2 separate regions of the Homo sapiens genome follow, and region 2 is linked to region 1. Evidence: fine-mapped expression QTL. Tissue or cell type: whole blood. Region 1 holds a variant in brackets; the other region holds the start of a gene. All regions are shown on one strand. Distances are from middle to middle.

Region 1 (5,604 bases):
CTGGAGTGCAGTGGTGTGATCATAGCTCATTGCAGCCTCAGACTCCTGGGCTCAAGGGATCCTCCTGCCTCAGCCTCCTGAGTAGCTGGGACCACAGGCATGCACCACCATGCCCAGCTAATTTTTATATTTTTTGTAGAGATGGGTTTTCGCTATGTTGCCCAGGCTGGTCTCAAACTCTTGGCCTCAAATGATCCTCCCGCCTTAGCCTCTTAAAGTGCTGGGATTTGAGCCACTGCACTCAGCCTGTAATGACTTTCCAATGTTCTTACACTGGGGAAAAGCACCTGATCTACCAACACGGGGGCTTATGAGAGGGCGACCACCTCTCCCCCGCCCAGCACCAGCTTTGGGAAGGCAGTGGTGTGGGAGGTTGGAGTCTTGCACTGGAGGGAGGGACAGGTAAGCTGATAACAGAAGGCAGTGAAGTGAGCCCTGGTGCTCAGTGATGGGACAGGTAAGCTGAAAATACAAGGCAGTGAAGTGAGCCCGGGATGAGGAGAGGTGTCTGCTGGGGTGGAAACTGGAGTGAACTTGAAGAGAAAGTCGGCACTCGCCAGTGAGAACAGGCAGGAGTGGTCAAAGTCCAGGAGGAAGCAGGAAGGGAGGGTGAGTGCAGGGGCCAGGCTCGGCGGCAGCGAGGGGTCCGTGCTGGGGGATGAGCACCCTGAGTCGGGCTTTTCCCTTGACCTTGATGGAGAGGGTTCTGATCACACCCGAGTCAGAGACAAGTCACACAGCAGAAAGCACGGAGCGGGTCGGGGAAAGGAGCTCCCACAGTGTCCAGGGGAGCCCCAGCTCTGGCTGAAGAGGAGGGACCCAGGCCAAGTGGCCATGGAAACAGACGTGGGAGCTGACCGGGGCCACCTTCTTCCTTCCTTTGCTCCCTCCTCTTAACCTCTGCCGGCCCCTCCTTTCCCATGTCCTTTGTCCTCTCTTCTCCTTGCTTTCCTGTCACCTGCATTCCCAGCCCATGTTTTCTGCCTCTCCTTCTTCTAACTTGTCCTCTGAGCACAGAATGCAGCAGGCCCCCATCAGCTCCCACCCATCCCCTCCACACTGCAAGCAGCCACTTGGTACCTGGTGCTGGGTACAGAATGGCCTGGGGCAACCCTGCACAGCCACAGAGCTCAGGGTCTAACACTGAACCCCGGAGTCAATCGAATACATTCCCAGGAACCAGCCCCTCCCAGTGGTGCCTCGGTGAGCACAGGGTCGTGTTGGGTGCATAGGGAGTCTCGTTCCACTGTCTGTCGCCTCAACACCTGACCAGGGCCTGAACCACAGGGAAGCTCATAGGATTCTTTTGGAATCGCTGGTGGAGGGATTAGAGACCTGCAGAACTTGCTGAAGTCCCGTGGAATCTCAGAGCTCACCTCCTCCACCACCAACAGATGGCCCAAGGCCAGTGTGGGCCATTTTCTTCCATGATTACCTAACGTCCCCACTCCTGTTAGCTCAGACAGGAGCTGGCTTTCTACCAATGAATCCAGCCCCGAGCGAAAGAATTCCCCGCAGAGCCACCCCAGGACCTCCTACCTTCATCGCCAGGGCCATCAATGCACCCTCGGTGGGCTGCCCCATCACGGCGTTCTTTCTGATGACCGCATTGTTGGCAACACAGCCCGCCTAAAAGGGGATTGTCCGGACATCTGTAGTTAGTACTGGGCTCATGAAAAAGTTAGACATTGTGGGCCTGTCCCATTTTTACAGCTGGGGTTGTGGGGACAAGACTTGCTCTTTAAAACAACTCAGCGTCCCGGCTTTTTAAAAGAAACATCGTGACTATTTCTTGGCTGTGCTGAATGTTGGTTCCCATAAAGTTATCATGAGGGAACCCAGCAGGGAGGCAGGTGCACGGGTGGTGACGAGTGTGGGGTAACGGGGAGCGACCGATAATGGGGATGATGGCATTTCCACTTGGGGTGACAAAGTATTCTAGACAGTGGTGAAGTTTGCACAACTTGTGAACAAATTGAAACCACTGAATTGTGCACTTTAACGGGGTGAATTCATGGTAGATGACTTCTACCTCAATTTATACATAAATATTTAAAAAATGAAAAAGAGACAAGCAAAAAGAGTGGGATTCCCAGCGCTCTTCCTTCCCGGCCTGGTGAGCCTGGACACTCGCATTACTTCTCTGCCCATTTCTTTTCTTTTCTTTTTTATTATTACTAGTTTTGCATATTTTTGTTTCATTCATTCATTCATTCGAGATGGAGTCTCATTCTATTACCCAGGGTGGAGTGCAGTGGCATGACCTCAGCTCACTGCAACCTCTGCCTCCCTGGTTCAAGGCAATTCTCCTGTCTCAGGCTCCTGAGTAGCTGGGACTACAGGTGTGTGCCACCATGCCCAGCTAATTTTTATATTTTTTAGTAGAGATGGGGTTTCACCACGTGGGCCAGGCTGGTCTTGAACTCCTGAACTCAGGTGATCCACCCGCCTTGGCCTCCCAAAGTGCTGGGATTATAGGCATGAGCCACCACGCCTGGTCATATTTTTGATTTTTAATCTGCAAAACCAAGACAGCGTTTGCTGTGATAGTGAAGTGGCCCCTGGAGGCAGGTCCTTTGCAAGTGGCGCTCACTGAACTGTACAGAGGAAGAAGGGTGCCTGCTACATGGGGAGGAGGGAGCCCCTGTGAAAGGGTGAGTACAGCTCGGACCGCAGGACTCATCACAGCAACAGGGGAACATCATCACAGGCTCACTAATAACAATAGGGGAAATTCATCACAGGCTCACTTTTTACCATTCATCGGGCACGTCTCTGGGCAGGAGTCTCCTTAGAGCCTTCCCAGTGGGCAGTGATGAGTACAGAGGCTTCTAGCTCTTCTTTTTAAATAATTTTTTTAAAAAAAATAATAGAAACAGGGTCTCACTACGTTGCTCAGGCTGGTCTCGAACTCCTGGCCTCAAGTGATTCTCCTGCCTTGGCCTCCCAAAGTGCTGGGATAACGGGCATTAGCCACTGTGCCCAGCCTAGCTGTCGTCTTACTTCTGATGTCTCCATCACTTTTGAGGCCATTTTTTCAGTGCTGTGCCAGCCTCACCCCTGGATGGGCCAGTCATTGTCAAGAACCAGTAGGTTCAATGGCTGTTTCCCTTTTCAGAGAGGAGCCCCA[G/T]AAGCCTCAATGTAAATGCCTATTTCCCTCATGGCGCTTTTGACACCTACCTCCACTAACTTTCCCACTGAGACATTGGAAAATTCCTTAATGACTTCCTTGGATGGTAGAAGACACACAGTCCCTTGACCGTCATACCCAACTCCGCTGACCTGCAGGGCGAGGCAGAAGAAAGGGTTTCGCCAAGAGTCAAAAACATGCTCCCCCAGTTGGCCCACAATCTCTGTCCTGGGGATCCATTCCAGGGACACAATCCTAAACGTGGACAGGGCTTTCAGTATGAAGATGTTCTCTGAAAGATTATTGATTAATTGGATACGTCATGGATGGACACAGTACCAGGCATGAGTAAGTTGCAGCAAGTTGACTCAGTGGGATACTCTGCAGCCAGTACAAGTGATGGTTAAGAAAACTAAGAACTAGCATAGAAGAGTGCTTCTATTCCAAGAACAGCGCTGGGTAAACGTGTTAGCCTTTGCAGCCCATACCACCTTTGTCGTGGCTACTCAGCTCTGCCGTTGCGGCACACTGAGGCATGAAAGCAGCCATTGGCAATATGTACACAAATGGGTGTGGTGGTACACCAAGGAAACTTTATTTTCAAACAAGCACTGGCCCATGGACCATCACCTGTTCACCCCTTGGTTTGGCCAGTTTTGTAGAAAAAATATCAGGATAAAAAAATTGCACATTCAGAGAGCTTCCAATTACGCCAAGCACGCAGAGGACACTGAAAAACACGCAAGGACTTGGGAGGCTGAGGTGGGAGGATCCCTTGAGCCCAGAAGTTAGAGGCTGCAGTGAGCCATGATTGCACCACTGCACTGCAACCTGGGCGACACAGCAAGACCCTGGCTTAAAAAATAAAACAGGCTGGGCGTGGTGGCTCACGCCTGTAATCCCAGCACTCTGGGAGGCCAAGGCGGGCGGATCACCTGAGGTCAGGAGTTTGAGACCAGCCTGGCCAACATATAGTGATACCCCGTCTCTACTAGAAAATACAAAAATAAGCTCGGCGTATTAGGGCATGCCTGTAGTCCCAGCTACTTGGGAAGCTGAGGCAGGAGAGTCGCTTGAACCCGAGAAGTGAAGGTTACAGTGAGCAGAGATCAGCCACTGCATTCCAGCCTGGGTGACGGAGCAAGACTCTGTCTCTCACAAACAAACAAACAAACCACAAATGGACTAATCACGGTTAGTTTATCGTGGAAGGTATGGAAGATTTTTTCTAGCTTTTAAATTTTGCAATGTGCTTATAATTAATAAGTAACTAAAAAAGGAGGCTACCTTAAATTGGTCATATCTATTAAAAGGAAGTATGGGATGATTAAAAACAAAATCAGTCATGTTAGCAAGGAGATTATAAGATGACCCCAATTTATTTCTTCCTTATTGTGTTCTAGAAGACATTGTGTGCTTAGTTTAGAAAGGAGACAGCCTGGCTGGGTGCATCCTTAAGGCTTGTAAATTCCTTTGGCACTCACCTCGGCACGAAGCCCATCTGACGTTACAAGCTGGGTCACTGTCATTTCATTGGCAGTCAGAGTCCCCGTCTTGTCAGAACAGAGAACGCTGCAGCAACCTGGTACAACAAACACCAGTTTATAGAAGAGAAGTTGCCATCCTCAGGCTTGTGAAACCCCCAGGCTGGATTGCCCTGACAGCCAAGCCCCCATTCAATTCCACGTGTAAGGATTCCACCAGCTGGAGTCCCTCACCTAAAGTCTCCACGATGGGTAACTTCTTCACGATGACCCGCTTCTTGGCCATCCGCAGCACTCCCAGGACCAGCGTCACCATGACGACGATGGGCAGACCCTCTGGAATGGCCGCCACAGCCAGGCTGGATCGAAAGGTCAAATGAGTCCCCTCTAACACATTTAAGGAGTGTGTGACTCTCAGCTGGGGCTGGCAATGCTTTTGGCTGGTGAAGCTTGTCTTAGGTGTCCCCAGTGTCCTGGTTCTAGTCTCCATTCCCAATCCTAAGGTGCACCTGCCTCCTTCTGCAGCACCCACTGTCCTGAGCCCTCCCCTGCAGACCCCGCTCTTGGGAAGGGACCTCTCCTGTCAGTCATCCACACCTTAATGTGAATTAGTCTGTCAGCTGTTTTGCCTCTTTAAAAGTATTTTGCATTGACATTATTCTCATTTATTAGAGAGAAAAGGCTTTGGGTTCCATAAAAGGAATTCCCAAAATCAGACAGTAAGTGGGATTAAGAGTTTTTGGTTCCAGGGGTCCTCGTGAGTCCCTTGAATTTCACTTTTCATGAGTGTAGTGGTGTAGACACTTCCTATGAGGAAGCCAGACAAGGAAGTCCAGGTCAGGGCAGGTGAAGGGCCACAGCGACACACTTGCCTGCTGCGTGGATCTGTTTCGGGGTGTCTGCTCACTTCTTTCTTACCCCTCCAACTCTCCCTGTACGGTGCGACCCCACTCTCTCATAACCAGGGTTGGCTGGATTCGAGGAGAGCGT
Region 2 (5,000 bases), 64 kb before region 1:
TTTGAATTGTTGCATGTGGTCCGGCAAGCACTGCACAATAGAATAACTGCCTGCCACATGTGGCCATTCAAACTGAAAATGAGAATAAATTCAATAAAATGAACTCGACTTCCTCTACTGCACAAGTCAGCCGTGGCTTCCGGCTCCATGCTGGCGGCACAGATGGATCGTTGCCCGCCTCACCGAGTGCTGCTGGAGGCTGCTGGTGGTGCCTCCTCAGGGCACGGCTGCTCCTGCGTTTGCTGCTTGGTGGTGGCCTCCTAACAGCCTGGCCCAGAAGGTGGTCCATGCAGCCCAAACTTGGGTTCCAGAGATGGGGAGTCGGGGGCAAGGAGCACATGGGGAAGAGAGAGTGGATGCTCAGCCACAATGGGGGCCCGGTGGTGGCTCAGCCTTTCTGTGGAGGTGTCAAAGCTGGACATGGAAAATTGGGCAGGGATGTCGCTAGCAGAGGCACCGCTGTGGATGGCAGGACCAGCCTGGTCAGGACCTCTGGGAGCCAAGGAGAGTTCAGTGCCCAAAGTCAGCATAAAAAACAGAAGCTGGTGCCCCGGGGGCAGTTGGACAGCCCATGGACATCCCCGGGAGCACCAGCTTGTTGAAATAGCATGATGTATATTTTTAAAAGAGTCTCACTTTATATGCAAAATGTCAAGCAATATAAATCTCTTATTTAAAAAAATTGAGAATACCAGGGGCGGTGGCTCATGCCTGTAATCCCAGCATTTTGGGAGGCCGAGGTGGGTGGATTACCTAAGGTCAGGAGTTCGAGACCAGCCTGGCCAACGTGGTGAAACCCCGTCTCTACTAAAAATATAAAAATTAACTGGGTGTGGTGGCCTATGCCTGTAATCCCAGCTACTCGGGAGGCTGAGGCAGGAGAATTGCTTGAACCTGGGAGGTGGAGGCTGCAGTGAGCCGAGATTGCGCCATTGCACTCCAGCCTGGGCAACAAGAGTGAAACTCCATCAAAAACAGAAACTTTCCAACCAGGCAGGTGGGCAGATTGGAGTGTAGGCTGTTTCTGGAGGGTATGGCCACGAGGTGGCGCCACTTCGGTAGCTCTCAAACGGCGCCGCTCCGCATTTGCTTCTGTGGTTTTCTGGGGGATTTTGTTTCACCGTTTTAATAACAAGATCTCACTTTCCTGCCCAGGCTGGAGTGCAGTGGTGCAATCACGGCTCACTGCAGTCTCGCCCTCTGAGGCTCAAGCGATCCTCCTGCCTCGGCTCCCTGAGTAGCTGGGACTACGGGTGTGCCATACCACGCCCGGCCAAGCTTTTCATTTTTTGTAGAGATGGAGTCTCACTATGTTGCCCAGGCTGACACATCGGCTCCGGTTTGCTCCTGCGGACCCCCCAGTACCTGCACCTGAGAGGCCACCATTGCTGTCCACCCTTGGTGTGCCTCAGCCTACAAAAAACTGTTGCTATGTCAAAAATGCCACTACCTCGGATGGCACTGAAAAAGACACACCTGGTTGATGTGTGCAGGAAGTACAGGGGTGTGAAGGCTGGAAACAGGGTCTAGTCCTTCATGTCTAAAGGCCCGTGTGTCTTGGGCATCAGGAGCCCTGGCTGCAGGTGACAGGCACCTACTCTAAGAAGCCGAGGTGAAGAGCTGGGGCTACTCGTGTCATTGGCATCCACAGCTGGGGGTACCCTGGCTGTAGATGCGTTAGTTTGTGGAGCTGCTTCTCCTGGGACATTGGCCTTGGATCTCAGAGCAATGTCTTGGTGAGGGGCCCTACCTTGTGCACTGTCACCAGCCAGGCCTGCTGCCCTCAGGCAGAAAGCCTTCTATTTTTGTTCCAGCTTAAAGAATAAGAGGTGACCAGCCGGGTGCAGTGGCTAACCCCTACAATTCTAGCACTGTGGGAGGCCGAGGCAGGCAGATCACCTGAGGTCAGGAGTTCGAGACCAACTCAAGCGGACGTTGGCGGGCGAAGTCACGGTTTTCCAGGCTGGAAAACCAGCAGGCCGTGCAGGGGAGAGAACTGGTACCATGGACATGCGGGAGCTGAATCTGCAGGAAGGTGGACCCCAGGGAGGATGCGTGGGGTGGAGAGAGTAGGGAGAAGTCGAGAAACTCCAGGGCAGAAGCCAGAAGGGCCCAGGGAAGACCACCAGGGACAGCGAGCGAGCCAGGGCCAGGAATGGGCGCCGGGGTGCCCAAGAGAGAGGTCTGATGAGAGCACGATCACCAAGCGCCAAATGCTGCCTGCGAGGACCCAAAGCGCACCTCGGATGTAGTGAGCAGGCCCCCGGGACCAGGTTTCGGTGGGTTTGAGAAGGAACGAGCTGAAGAAGTGGGGTGACAGGTTCAGACGTCTTGGAGTGAACGGGAACCGGCTGAAGAGGCGCACGTGGGGTGGAGGGAGTCTGTTTAGCCAGGCTGTGGAGCTGGCGCCTGATGGCTGCCGGGAAGGACCTGGTGCCAGGGAAGAGCGAGGCAGGGGCAGCTGGCAGAGGGAGGCCCGAGGGGAGGCGGACCCGAGGCTCTAGGCCAGGACCAGCAGGCCGGGGAGTCAGGGGAGAGTTGCCTGGGGCCCAGGAGGCTGCACTGCAGAGGCCTCTGCATGGGCTCCACATGGGCCACTCTCCTCCCCCGGGTGTCTTCACCCCCAAGCTCAGCCTCTCCCCCAGGATCTCCCACACCCTGGCTACTCCGCTCCAGCGCCCAGCCCAGACACCCCTTCTCCCCAGGTACCACTGCTGGCCTGGCCTGGCCTGAGTCATTGGCCGCCCTCTCCAGGCGCCTCCTTGGTACGCACGCAGCCGGGCCGGATTCCCGGGCCTGCAGCCGCTCCTCCCGCAGACCGCGGCCCCGCCCCGAGCCGCACCCACCGGGTTCGGCTCACTCCCTGTGAGGCGCGTCACCATTGGCTGACTCCTCTCTTGGGTTCCGCCCCACACCTCCGCTTCCACGATTGGACCAAATGACTGCCCCTCAGCAATGTTGCCTGGCAACAGGGAAGGGGCGGCTCTCGAGAGGAGCCCGTGGGCTGCTGGACCGGACCGGACAGCACCAGGAAGCCCGGCAGGGTAGGTACCTGGGCTGAGGTTCGCAGTGAGCTGACCCAGAGGCGCAGGCCCAGCTGAGTCGGGGGACTGGAGCAGACGGGTCCAGAGTAGGCCTGGGCCCTGCCCCTCCCTGGCCTCCCACGCCTCTTCAGGCCCTCGGGTCGGGGGAGGGAGAGGTGAAGGCTGCGGGGAGGTGAGGGGTGGGGACAGCGGGGCGGGATGGAGGGAGGGTCTCCTGGGGGGGATCAGAATCATCCTGCACCTCCCGCTGTTTATGTGGTCAAGGTAAGAGGGTGGCGAGGTGCTTCCCCCAGGGCCAAGGCCAGCCGTGTTGAAGGGGGATTCAGAGCCTGTGTAGACGCGGAAAGGGAGGGGTGCCTCCACGGAGGAGGCGAGTCTGGGGTAGACACTGAAGTGTGTGTGGAGGGGGTTTTCCTTCTTGTATTCTGACCACACCCATCTGGGCTTTTCCAGGACAGTGAGCTGATAACTGTTCCCAGGCCATGTAGGTGGCCAGCACAGGACAGGTCACCTTCTGGCCCACAGGAACTTCTTGCCCAGGCTCAAGCTGCCCCTTCGCACAAGGGCCTCTGGGCTCTGAGACACAGACAGGACTTCGAAGCCTGTCCAGATGAGGCAGTTGGAATCTCCCCAGCTTGTGGGGGTACGGAGGGACCCTTGTGTGGCTCTAGGGATGCGGGGCCCTTGGAGTAGAGAGTTGGAGCTTGGCAGCCAGGGTGGGAAGCAGCCATGTAACAGCCTGTTGGAGAAGCTCTGAGCAGGAGGTGACTAAGCCATTCCTAGGATACTAGTGGGAACCTTGGGGGCCATCCTGCAGACAATCGGTCCCTGTCCACCCCTCCATCACGGAGGCAGAGCAACCTTCCGTTTCTTCCAAGCAGGGCAGTTTCTCTTGTTCTAAGACAAGATCCCAAGGAGCCATTCTCTGTTGTCTTGGGCCCATTATTCTGTCTCTGACCTCCAGTAAGCAGATCAAATGCCCTGGGTTACCTTATTTAATCTTCTCAACCTTATGTTAAAGAAATTAATTAATGATGCTTATTAAAAGCACATTAATTATTGAAGACCATTGCAATGGGTATAGGGACCACAGCAATGGGATTTTGTAGTAAAGGAGAGAGATTGGGCTCAACTCTGATTATAGCATGGGCAAGTGGGAAGCCAGGAAGCAGGGTGGGGATCAGTGGATGGAAGATGACTGAGGAAACATCAGGGCGCTAGGGTGGATTCTGGGTAAGCTTACCTAGCAGTTTGTTACTGAAGGCAGGCCAGGGTGATCAGACATCACCTAGGGCAAGCTCGTCCAACCCGTGGGCCATATGTGGCCTAAGGCGGCTTTGAATGACATCCAACACAAATTCATAAGCTTTCTTAAAACATGAGATTTTTTTTTTACCATATATGTAGATATATGCACTTATCAGTTATTGTTAGTGGGTTTTATGTGTGGCCCAAGACAGTTCTTCCAGTGTGGCCCAGGGAAACTGAAAGATTGGATATCCCTAACCTAAGCATTAAACCTGGTTAGATAGCAAGTGAACAGATAATGGTGATCAAATATCAAGGATGAGTGGTTTTGTGGGTTTTTTTGTTTGTTTGTTTTTTGTTTTGCTAAAACCAGATTTTACAAAGAGGTACACAGATGGGCCCAGGAGCCTGACTAAAGTCTGGTCAAGCAAAACATCTTGGTCACTTATTATGGGCTGCTGGAACTTTTGTTTGTGTTTTTATGAGACAGAGTCTTGCTCTGTCACCCAGGCTGGAGTGCACTGTTGTGATCTTGGCTCACTGCGACCTCTGCCTCCTGGTTCAAGCGATCTTCCCACCTCAGCCTCCTGAATAGCTGGAACTATAGTCACACGCCACCACACCCGGCTGAGGTTTGTATTTTTGGCAGAGACGAAGTCTCACTATGTTGCCCAGGCTGGTCTCAAACTCCTGGCCTCAAATGATCCT

What was found. PIP is the estimated chance that this variant, and not a neighbour inherited with it, causes the effect.
Region 2: it holds the start of MEAK7, and the variant in region 1 is fine-mapped to the expression of MEAK7 in whole blood (INTERVAL, PIP 0.99).

Annotation. Positions count from the first base shown.
Region 1 is chr16:84,438,535-84,444,138 of GRCh38, reverse strand. It overlaps ATP2C2 (ATPase secretory pathway Ca2+ transporting 2), which reads right to left. Exons shown (of 27, transcript NM_014861.4): 12 at 4,849-4,973; 13 at 4,615-4,712; 14 at 3,181-3,282; 15 at 1,540-1,629. Among named protein-coding and RNA genes, the nearest start is that of ATP2C2-AS1, 26 kb to the left of the region's middle. The variant G/T (reference allele first, on the strand shown) is at 3,131.
Region 2 is chr16:84,502,645-84,507,644 of GRCh38, reverse strand. MEAK7 (MTOR associated protein MEAK7) reads left to right here and starts at 2,986. Exons shown (of 8, transcript NM_020947.4): 1 at 2,986-3,044. It overlaps LOC124903736 (a long non-coding RNA gene), which reads right to left and starts at 2,843. Exons shown (of 2, transcript XR_007065149.1): 1 at 2,710-2,843; 2 at 1-299. RefSeq lists enhancers at 1-398, 2,526-2,645, 2,008-2,955, 3,076-3,576 and silencers at 671-907, 891-1,010, 3,196-3,245.